Linked DNA regions of Homo sapiens: regions 1 and 3 are each linked to region 2. Evidence: fine-mapped expression QTL. A gene starts in region 2. Each other region holds a variant in brackets. All regions are shown on one strand. Distances are between the middles of the regions.

Region 1 (2,500 bases), 24 kb after region 2:
AGCTTTCGTTTGCACATCACCCTGAGGAAATTTACACTGTGACTCGGTGTTCATTTCTCTCCACTTCAGACATGTTGGTTTGCTGCGTATTAAAGGGAGGAAGATGAATATGCATAAAATTCCTCTTCACACAGTGCGGCAGTTTTTCATGGAGGATATTGTTCTAGCTAATCATCCAGACATTTTTAACCCAGATAATCCTAAAGTAACCCAAGCCATACAAAGCTTCTGTTTGGAGAAGGTAATTCTTTTTGATAAAGTCAATGAGATCTACTTTAGTTGAAGAATTATTCACCTTCAATTAAGTAATTTAATAGAGTAGAGGGAAGCCTTTATGTTGATTACATTCTCATGAAGCCTGTAAGGACACTGTTCTTCAGTGAATGTGTTTAATTGTGTCCAAGATTTTTTTTTTTAAGTCATTGAGAGAGAGGAATACTGGATGTTAAAAAAAATTAAATCTCTCTCCTAGTTTCTTTCTTCCTTTTCAAAAACATAATACATAATCTTTTCTCCTTTTTAATCCTGATTTGATGATTTGTTCATTTTATTTATGAAAGCAGGCAGTAACTTTGATTGAGGAATGGGAGACTATCGTGTGTGAGAAAAGCCTTAGCTTCTAATAATCTGTATTAGGCGTCCCTTTCACCCTGAAAGCTACCCCAAATGAAATGTGAAAAATGTGTTTGCTATCCACCCTATTGCTGCAATGTAAGTCCCAAACCTCCCTCTCTATGCACATTGCCACCCCTAAATCTCTAGAAAATTTCAGCCACTACTAAGGTTGGGTGGATTAATGCATTTAATAATATGTGGTTTGACAGCTTAATTAGCATCACTTGCTGACGCTCAGTTCTTAACTCTGTGTCAGCTGTCCTACTATGTTTTCTTTTCATGAAAAATCAGGTAACATAGTAACAATGATAATAATTATGACCAGTGATACTTACTGATTTACTGTATGTGATGTGCACTGTTGACAGCATTTAATCTAGCCAACAATACTATATGTGAGTAGTTTCTACCATCTATAGTTTAGAGGAACTGAACCTTAGATAAGGTGACTCATTCAGTGTCACAGCTTTTTGAGCAGTGTGTAGCTCACGTAACCAAAAGTGTACGCTTGTTTCAAGATGATTGACTCTAGAAACTCAAACATAGATTAAGATTCTGGCATCCCTAAATCCAATCTCTCAAGCCAAAGA[G/T]ATAGAAAATGCATTAATTGCTTTTGCATTGATTGATCCAGGCCTGAGTCATGTGCCCTTCCCTGGAGTCAGACCTGGGTTTTTCAACTTTGGCTTAGTTGACATTTTGTACTAATAATTCTTTGTTGTGGGAGGCAGTTCTGTGCACTCTGGGATGTTTAGCAGTATTCTCCCTGGTTTGTACCCACTAGATGCCAGTAGTACCCCTTCTAACTGGTCGTGATGATCAAAAATGTTTACAGACCTTGCCAAATGTCCTTAGAGAAGCAAAGTCACCTCTGGTTGAGGTCTACTGTATGAACTTCACCTAAATCCTGTGGGCTTTGGTGACATGAATCCAGAGAGGAAAGTAGACGCTGGTGACACAAAGTAATAGAGGTTCATTTTAAACACCAGGTGTGCACATAACTTTCTGTTATCTCTGTATTTTATGTACATTTCTGTTATTGTACTTAGTTAAGTTATATTATTTTTTATAAGCATGTGAGTGTCTTCTGAACTCTTTGAGGACAGGACCCATATCTTACTTTTCTGTCTCAGCACTTGACCTAGTACCTGGCAAAATGATGCTCTATAAATGCTTGTTGGATTGAAATAATTGACCTAGGAGATCATATTCTTATAGATTTTCTCTGTGCTGTCTGATATGTATTCACTAGCACATGTGGCGTTTACATTTAATTATTTACATTTAAATTTAAAATTCAGTTTCTCACTTGTACTAGCCACATTTCAAGTACTCTATATCCACATATGGTTTTGGCAACCATATTGAATATGCACATAGAAAAAATTATTGCAGAAAACTCTTTTGGACTTCATTGTTACAGACAGTTTAAAGGACAAGATTATAAAGTCTTAGATGTGAAAGAAATCTGAGGACAAAAACACTTGTTCTGTATTGTTCTTGAGATCAGGACCAAGTTATAGGAAGGCAGTTTTTGTTCCAATACAAGAACTTTCTAAGAACTAGAATTGTTCAGCTATGAAGTTGGCCATCTGGAGATATCTAATCACTGTGCACACAGCCATTTATGAAAATAATCTAGTGCTGTCTCCTTGTAACTTGGTTTTACCCTTAAGAACAATATAGAACAAGTGCTTTTGTCTTCAGAACTCTTTCAAGTCTAAGATGTTATAATCTTATCCTCTCAGAGTATGAGACAACTCCACATATTTGAAAACATCAGTCTTATTTTCTTTTACCTTGAACTCTTCCAAGATAAATAATCTAAAGTCCTTGCTTATTGATCCCTAAATCTTCTGGTGAGTCTCCCATGGATCATATGACTGCA
Region 2 (2,799 bases):
AGTTAGGCATAACCCCAAGATACTGATTTCTTGATACCTAATCTCACAAGTTTAACAGTATACAATCTTAATGTGGTATTAAACTTTATTACTAGTGGCAATAGCACTAAACTCAAGTTTAAATGTATTACTCATGTCCAGTAACTTTTCTGGTCCTGTTACTTTATTGTAAAATGTAAGAATTTTACTAAAGTATTCCTAAGGCCAATCCGGCTTTTCAGTCACCCAATCAGAGACACCCTTGGAATCAGAGATATCCAATCAGAATTGCTCTGTGTTTTATTAATTCTCCTGGAGCTTCCACTTTTTCTTTGATTCTCAAACTAATTCCTGAACCTTGCAACACAAAAATGACCATACATCAATTCATTAAACACTTAACAGATGCTAATAAATAAAAGTTCACTTGTAATTATATCAAATATAGTAACCTTATACCACAGATCTTACCCTCTCCCCCAACATGCTTTTCCTTTCAATAAAAACTCCCTTTATATAAATTTTGAGTTTACAGATCCAGATACAAAAAATTATGTACAAAATTTTACTGGTATATTTAGTTTAAAAAGCCAAGCCTAGGCGCATCTACCCGACTTACAGTTAAGAAACAAAACTGATGACTTGATGATGATATTCCTGATATTCCATCAGGAATGTCAGGGTATGTTTCCTAACTTAAAGGGCATATCCTATTTTGAGAGAGATCCGAACTATGTCAACTCCTTACAAACAACTCAGTGATAGGCGGGGCTATAAACCTTACTGGTGAAGGAGGTTCAGATAGATTAAAACAACTTGCCCTAGATCAAGGACCCTTCAATGGAACTGAAAGGGCAGACGTTCTAATTCAAAAGTTCTACATTATTTTTCGCTGCACTATACATCTTACTGCTCTCAGCACAAAGCAGTGCAGATGTGCTGAACTCAAGGACCTAGGGGCGACACCTGTAGAGGGTCTGGCGACTGGGAGGGAGGGAGAGGGGATCCAGCTCCGGCACTCTGCCACCAGCCGGGAGCTCACAGGCCCGTGAGCTCCGCCTGCGGCCTTCCAAACAGCCAAGAGCGGAGAAGCGGCTTCGGTCCTACCTGGGGACCACGAAGCGGCCTGACCTGCAGGGCTCGGCCTGTGTCCACAGGCTACCCACCCCCACGGGCTCAGGAGTTCTTAGATGGCGCCGGTCCATCAAAAAGCGAGGTCCGGGACAGGGAATAACAACCCACCTGACAGAAGGGAAAATCGCCGCCTTGCATCTCACTTCCGGGTTCGTCTCCTAGCCTGCTCAGGATTGGCTCCTGCGTGAGGGCGGGGCCTCGCCGCTACTTTCCCCGCCCCCTCACTGCGTGCGGTAGCCAATGAGAGCCGAACTGGACTTGAAGCATCTACGTTATCCATGAAGTGTCGCGAGAGAAACGGACGCCGTTCTCTCCCGCGGAATTCAGGTTTACGGCCCTGCGGGTTCTCAGAGGCAAGTTCAGACCGTGTTGTTTTCTTTTCACGGATCCTGCCCTTTCTTCCCGAAAAGAAGACAGCCTTGGGTCGCGATTGTGGGGCTTCGAAGAGTCCAGCAGTGGGGTAATTTAGGAATCGCATTCGTCTCCTGTTTCTGCAGGTTCCCAGGCGGAAGCCCAGAGTTAACTGGAACCTCGGGAAGAGCGGGCCGAGTGGGCAGGGGAGGGGTCCTGGCGGGCTCAGCGTTCTGATTCCGAGGTTCCCTGCGGTGAGGGCGTGTTGAGGCTTGGAATCCCGACGGAATCTGGAGCTCCAGATGTGGTGGGGGTTGTCTCGCGGTGGCAGCCACTCTTCCCCAAACCTGGCTATTTTCAGTCATCCTGCTGGTGCTTAAAGGTGTTCCTCCGCAGACCACGTGTTTGTTTATTTACACTCGCTTTAAACGCGGGCCCGTTCCCTTTTCCAAACTAGCCAGGTCCTTTAAAAAAAATCGTGGGGTTTGAATAGGAAATACAGGATTGCCTCTGTTCTCCAGAGTAACCTATGCGTGCAACTTAAAAATATCTGCACATCTAGAGTTGTTTGTGTGTTGAACCAGAACCGTATGTGACCCTTTCTGCCCATTTATTTAGCATACATTAATTTCCCATAAGAGCACGGGAAAGGAAAATAGGAGTTTAATCATCTTGGTGAAACTAGGAAACAGGATGTACACTGGAGATATATTATTTTCTATGCTCAGTTCATTAAAAAAAAGTATAGTGGGTGCTTAGATGAAAATGAGACTTCTAAATTTGCCAGTCTAATTAAGACGTCTGTACCTTGTGCAGCGTAAATCATGTTGGTTAAATACGTGCAGGCTTTTAAAAAATGTGTTTTATGATGTAATTTTGTTTTTAGAATTTCTAGAATTTGGAATCGAGTGCATTTTCTGACATTTGAGTACAGTACCCAGGGGTTCTTGGAGAAGAACCTGGTCCCAGAGGAGCTTGACTGACCATAAAAATGAGTACTGCAGATGCACTGTAAGCACCTGACTTCTGGAATCCCTTGTTATTTGGGGTTTCTAAAGCTCGTCAACTGTGATCACAGTAAAAGAAAACTTATTTAATAAGCAGTAAATAAGGAACCTGTTTATGAACAGAAATATTAGTCATCAAAAAGGGTATTTGGAATGTTTTAAATATTTATCTGTTTGTTAACTGGAAGCTAATATGCAGCTATAGATTGGAGTCTTGCAGTAATTTGATATATTGATATAGTATTGTTTATGTTCTTAGGCTTCATCTTAAATTATTGAAGTGATAAATATTCTTGAATTTTCCTGACAAATTCTTATTAGTCAATGC
Region 3 (2,857 bases), 170 kb after region 2:
CTGGGACAGCTGCAAGCATGTGACTCCAATGCATGACAGTTGCTGTATGGGATGCGCTTAGCAAAACCCTGGAGCCTTCAGGGCCTAACCCTCACCCCAGTGTGTCTGGAAGGTAGGACATTGAATTAAAGATTATTCTGGAGCCTTAAGATTAAATGTTTTTGCCCTGTAGTGTTTCAGACTTACTTGGAACCCATTATCCCTTTCTTCCTTACTATTTCTCCTTTTTGAAGTGGGAATGTCTATCCTATGCCTATCCCATCATTGTATTTGGAAGTACATAAGTTATTTGAATTTACAGGTTCACAGTTGGAGAGCAATTTACCTCAGGGTGAATCATACCCTGAATCTCACCCACATTGATTTAGGTGATATTTAGATGAGACTCTAGTTTATAGACTTTTGAGTTGGTACTGAACAGGTTAAGGCTTTTGTGGCTACTGGGATGGAATGAATATATTTTATATGTGAGAAGGACATGTCTCCCACTTTAAATCAAAAGCTAGAAATGAATAGCTTAATAAGGAAGGCATGTTGAAAGCTGAGATAGGCTGAAACCTAGGCTTCTTGCACCAGTTAGCCAAATTGTGAATTCAAAGGAAAAGTCCTTGAGGGAAATTAAAAGTGCTGCTCCAGTGAACGCATGAATGATAAGAAAGCCAAACAGCCTTCTTGCTGGTATGGAGAAAGTGTTAATAACTTGGATAAAAAAATCAAACCAGCCACAACATTCCCTTAAGCCAAAGCCTAATCCAAAGCAAAGTGTTCAACATTGAGGCAAAACTCTCCACCAGCAAAAAGATCACAACTTGCTGAAGGTTCAGATGATTGTCAGCATTTTTTAGTTATAAAGTATTTTAAAATTAAGGTATGTACACTTTTTTAGACAGAATGCTATCACTCACTTAGTAGACCTCAATATAGTGTAAACTTTAATGTGTTCTGGTAAGCCAACAAATTTGTGTGACTCACTTTATTGTGATATTCACTTTATTGTGGTGGTCTGGAACCAAAGCCACAATATCTCCAGGTTATGCCTCTATTTGACAGAGTTTTGTGATTAGACAACCTTCAAGACAGCCCCCAATGATCCCCATTCCTGGTGTTCATTCCCTTCTATAATCCCCGTCCCACCCCCCACCACCACACCCAGAGTTGATCTTTCTGGGATAGACCTAATACTTTGCTTCTAATGAATAGAATATAAGGCAAAAGCGATTCAATGTCTTTTCTGAGACTAGGTTCCAAAAGGCTATCATTTCTGTTTTGATTGCAGAGTCTGTTTTGATTCTCTTTCCCTGGCTCTTCTCGGTTTGCTGACTCTTATGAAATGAGCTGCTATATTATGAGCTGTTCTGTGGAGAAACACATGTTAAAAGGAATTGAAAGTGGCCTCTGGCCAACAGCCAGTGAGGAACTGAGGCTCTTGGTCCAATAGCCCACAAAAAACTAAATTCTGCCAACAACCATGTGAACAGCAGAGTTGTGAGTGAGCTTGGAAATGGATCCTTCCCCAGTTGAGCTTTAAGATGACTACACAACCAGATGATACTTTGACTGTGTCCTTGTTAGAGATC[G/A]TGAGCCAGAGTATCTGCTAAACCATACCTGAATTTCTGGGCCATAGAAAATGTGTGATAATAAATATTTTAAGACACTAACTTTTGGGGTAATTTGTTACACAGTGCTTTGGTTCTTATGTGTCCCCCAAAAAGCAGGTGTTAGAAACTTGATTCCCAATTCAACAGTGTTGGGAGGTGGAACCTGATGAAAAGTGATTAGGCCAAGAAGGTGAAGTGAATGGATTAGTGCCATTATTGTGGGAGTGGGTTTGTTATAAAAGGGAGAGCTTGGCCCCCTTTACGCACATTCTTTCTTTCATTCTTCCTCCCTTCCTGCCATCATATGACACAGCAAGAAGACCCTTGCAAGATGTCTGCACATTGATATTGGATTTGCTACCCTCCAAAAGTGTGAGCCAATAAATTTCTGTTTGTTTTAAATTACCTAGTCTCATGTATTCTGTAATAATAGCACAAAATGTACTAAGACACGTAGCAATGGATAGCTAATACAAAGTTGATGATGGGAGTCCTCTATGGGAGGACACAAAGTCAGCCTCCTATTGATCACCCATGGGTAGCTGCAGAAAGGGCAGACCAAGTATGATGTTGAAGCACAGAGTATACAAACGGACTGAATATATAAGTGGACAATGGCAGACTGTATATTACAATAGAACTCTGCAGCAACCTGGCCGGGAAGCCAAACCATAACCTTTGTAGCAACTTTCACAGAATGGGGAGGACTTGGTCAATGGCTGCCAGCTTCCTTATTTTTTGCCCTCACTTCCAACTGAGGCCCAAACATAGAATGCTCCCCAAATTAATCATGTAAGGTGCTCCACTTCTAATTATCCTGCCTAAAGCTTCCCACACTGACAAATTACAATCAGAGCATACTTAAAGCTGTTCCACCAACTTTTTTTTTAACTATAAAGTTTTCCCACTCTCTTTTGCCTGCCTTGAGCCTCTGTCATAGGATAAGTGAGGGTGGCTGACCCCCTTGTTATAACCACCTCTGAATAAATAGCCTCTGCTTGTTCTCATGTTAGCGATCTTCATTGCCACAGCACCCTCTTCCCCAACTCCCATGTGTTCTGCTGCCTCCTGCTGGCCACCTGAGGAAGACCAACCTTGCTGGGGGCCACACTGCTCTGGATGTTCCTACAGAAACAGGAGCAGCAACCCAGATGGCTAATGACCAGTCATCCTCTCCCTTCTCCACCTCTTATGCTAGCATTCACTGTGAGTTGTCTTTTGACTAGTTGCTTGTTGACTGGAGCCTTTAATTAATCCAA

What was found. PIP is the estimated chance that this variant, and not a neighbour inherited with it, causes the effect. A credible set is the group of variants that fine-mapping cannot tell apart.
Region 1: its variant is the best candidate, but not a certain one, in a credible set for the expression of MRE11 in Th2 cells (Schmiedel 2018, PIP 0.58).
Region 3: its variant is the best candidate, but not a certain one, in a credible set for the expression of MRE11 in lymphoblastoid cells (GENCORD, PIP 0.77).

What each region holds. Positions count from the first base shown.
Region 1 is chr11:94,468,212-94,470,711 of GRCh38, reverse strand. It overlaps MRE11 (MRE11 double strand break repair nuclease), which reads left to right. Exons shown (of 20, transcript NM_005591.4): 9 at 70-241. Among named protein-coding and RNA genes, the nearest start is that of MIR548L, 2.9 kb to the right of the region's middle. The variant G/T (reference allele first, on the strand shown) is at 1,206.
Region 2 is chr11:94,492,458-94,495,256 of GRCh38, reverse strand. MRE11 (MRE11 double strand break repair nuclease) reads left to right here and starts at 1,413. Exons shown (of 20, transcript NM_005591.4): 1 at 1,413-1,466; 2 at 2,351-2,475. The coding sequence starts at 2,456. It overlaps ANKRD49 (ankyrin repeat domain 49), which reads right to left and starts at 1,273. Exons shown (of 3, transcript NM_017704.3): 1 at 1,222-1,273. RefSeq lists an enhancer at 974-1,063.
Region 3 is chr11:94,325,689-94,328,545 of GRCh38, reverse strand. No RefSeq gene overlaps it. Among named protein-coding and RNA genes, the nearest start is that of IZUMO1R, 23 kb to the right of the region's middle. The variant G/A (reference allele first, on the strand shown) is at 1,578.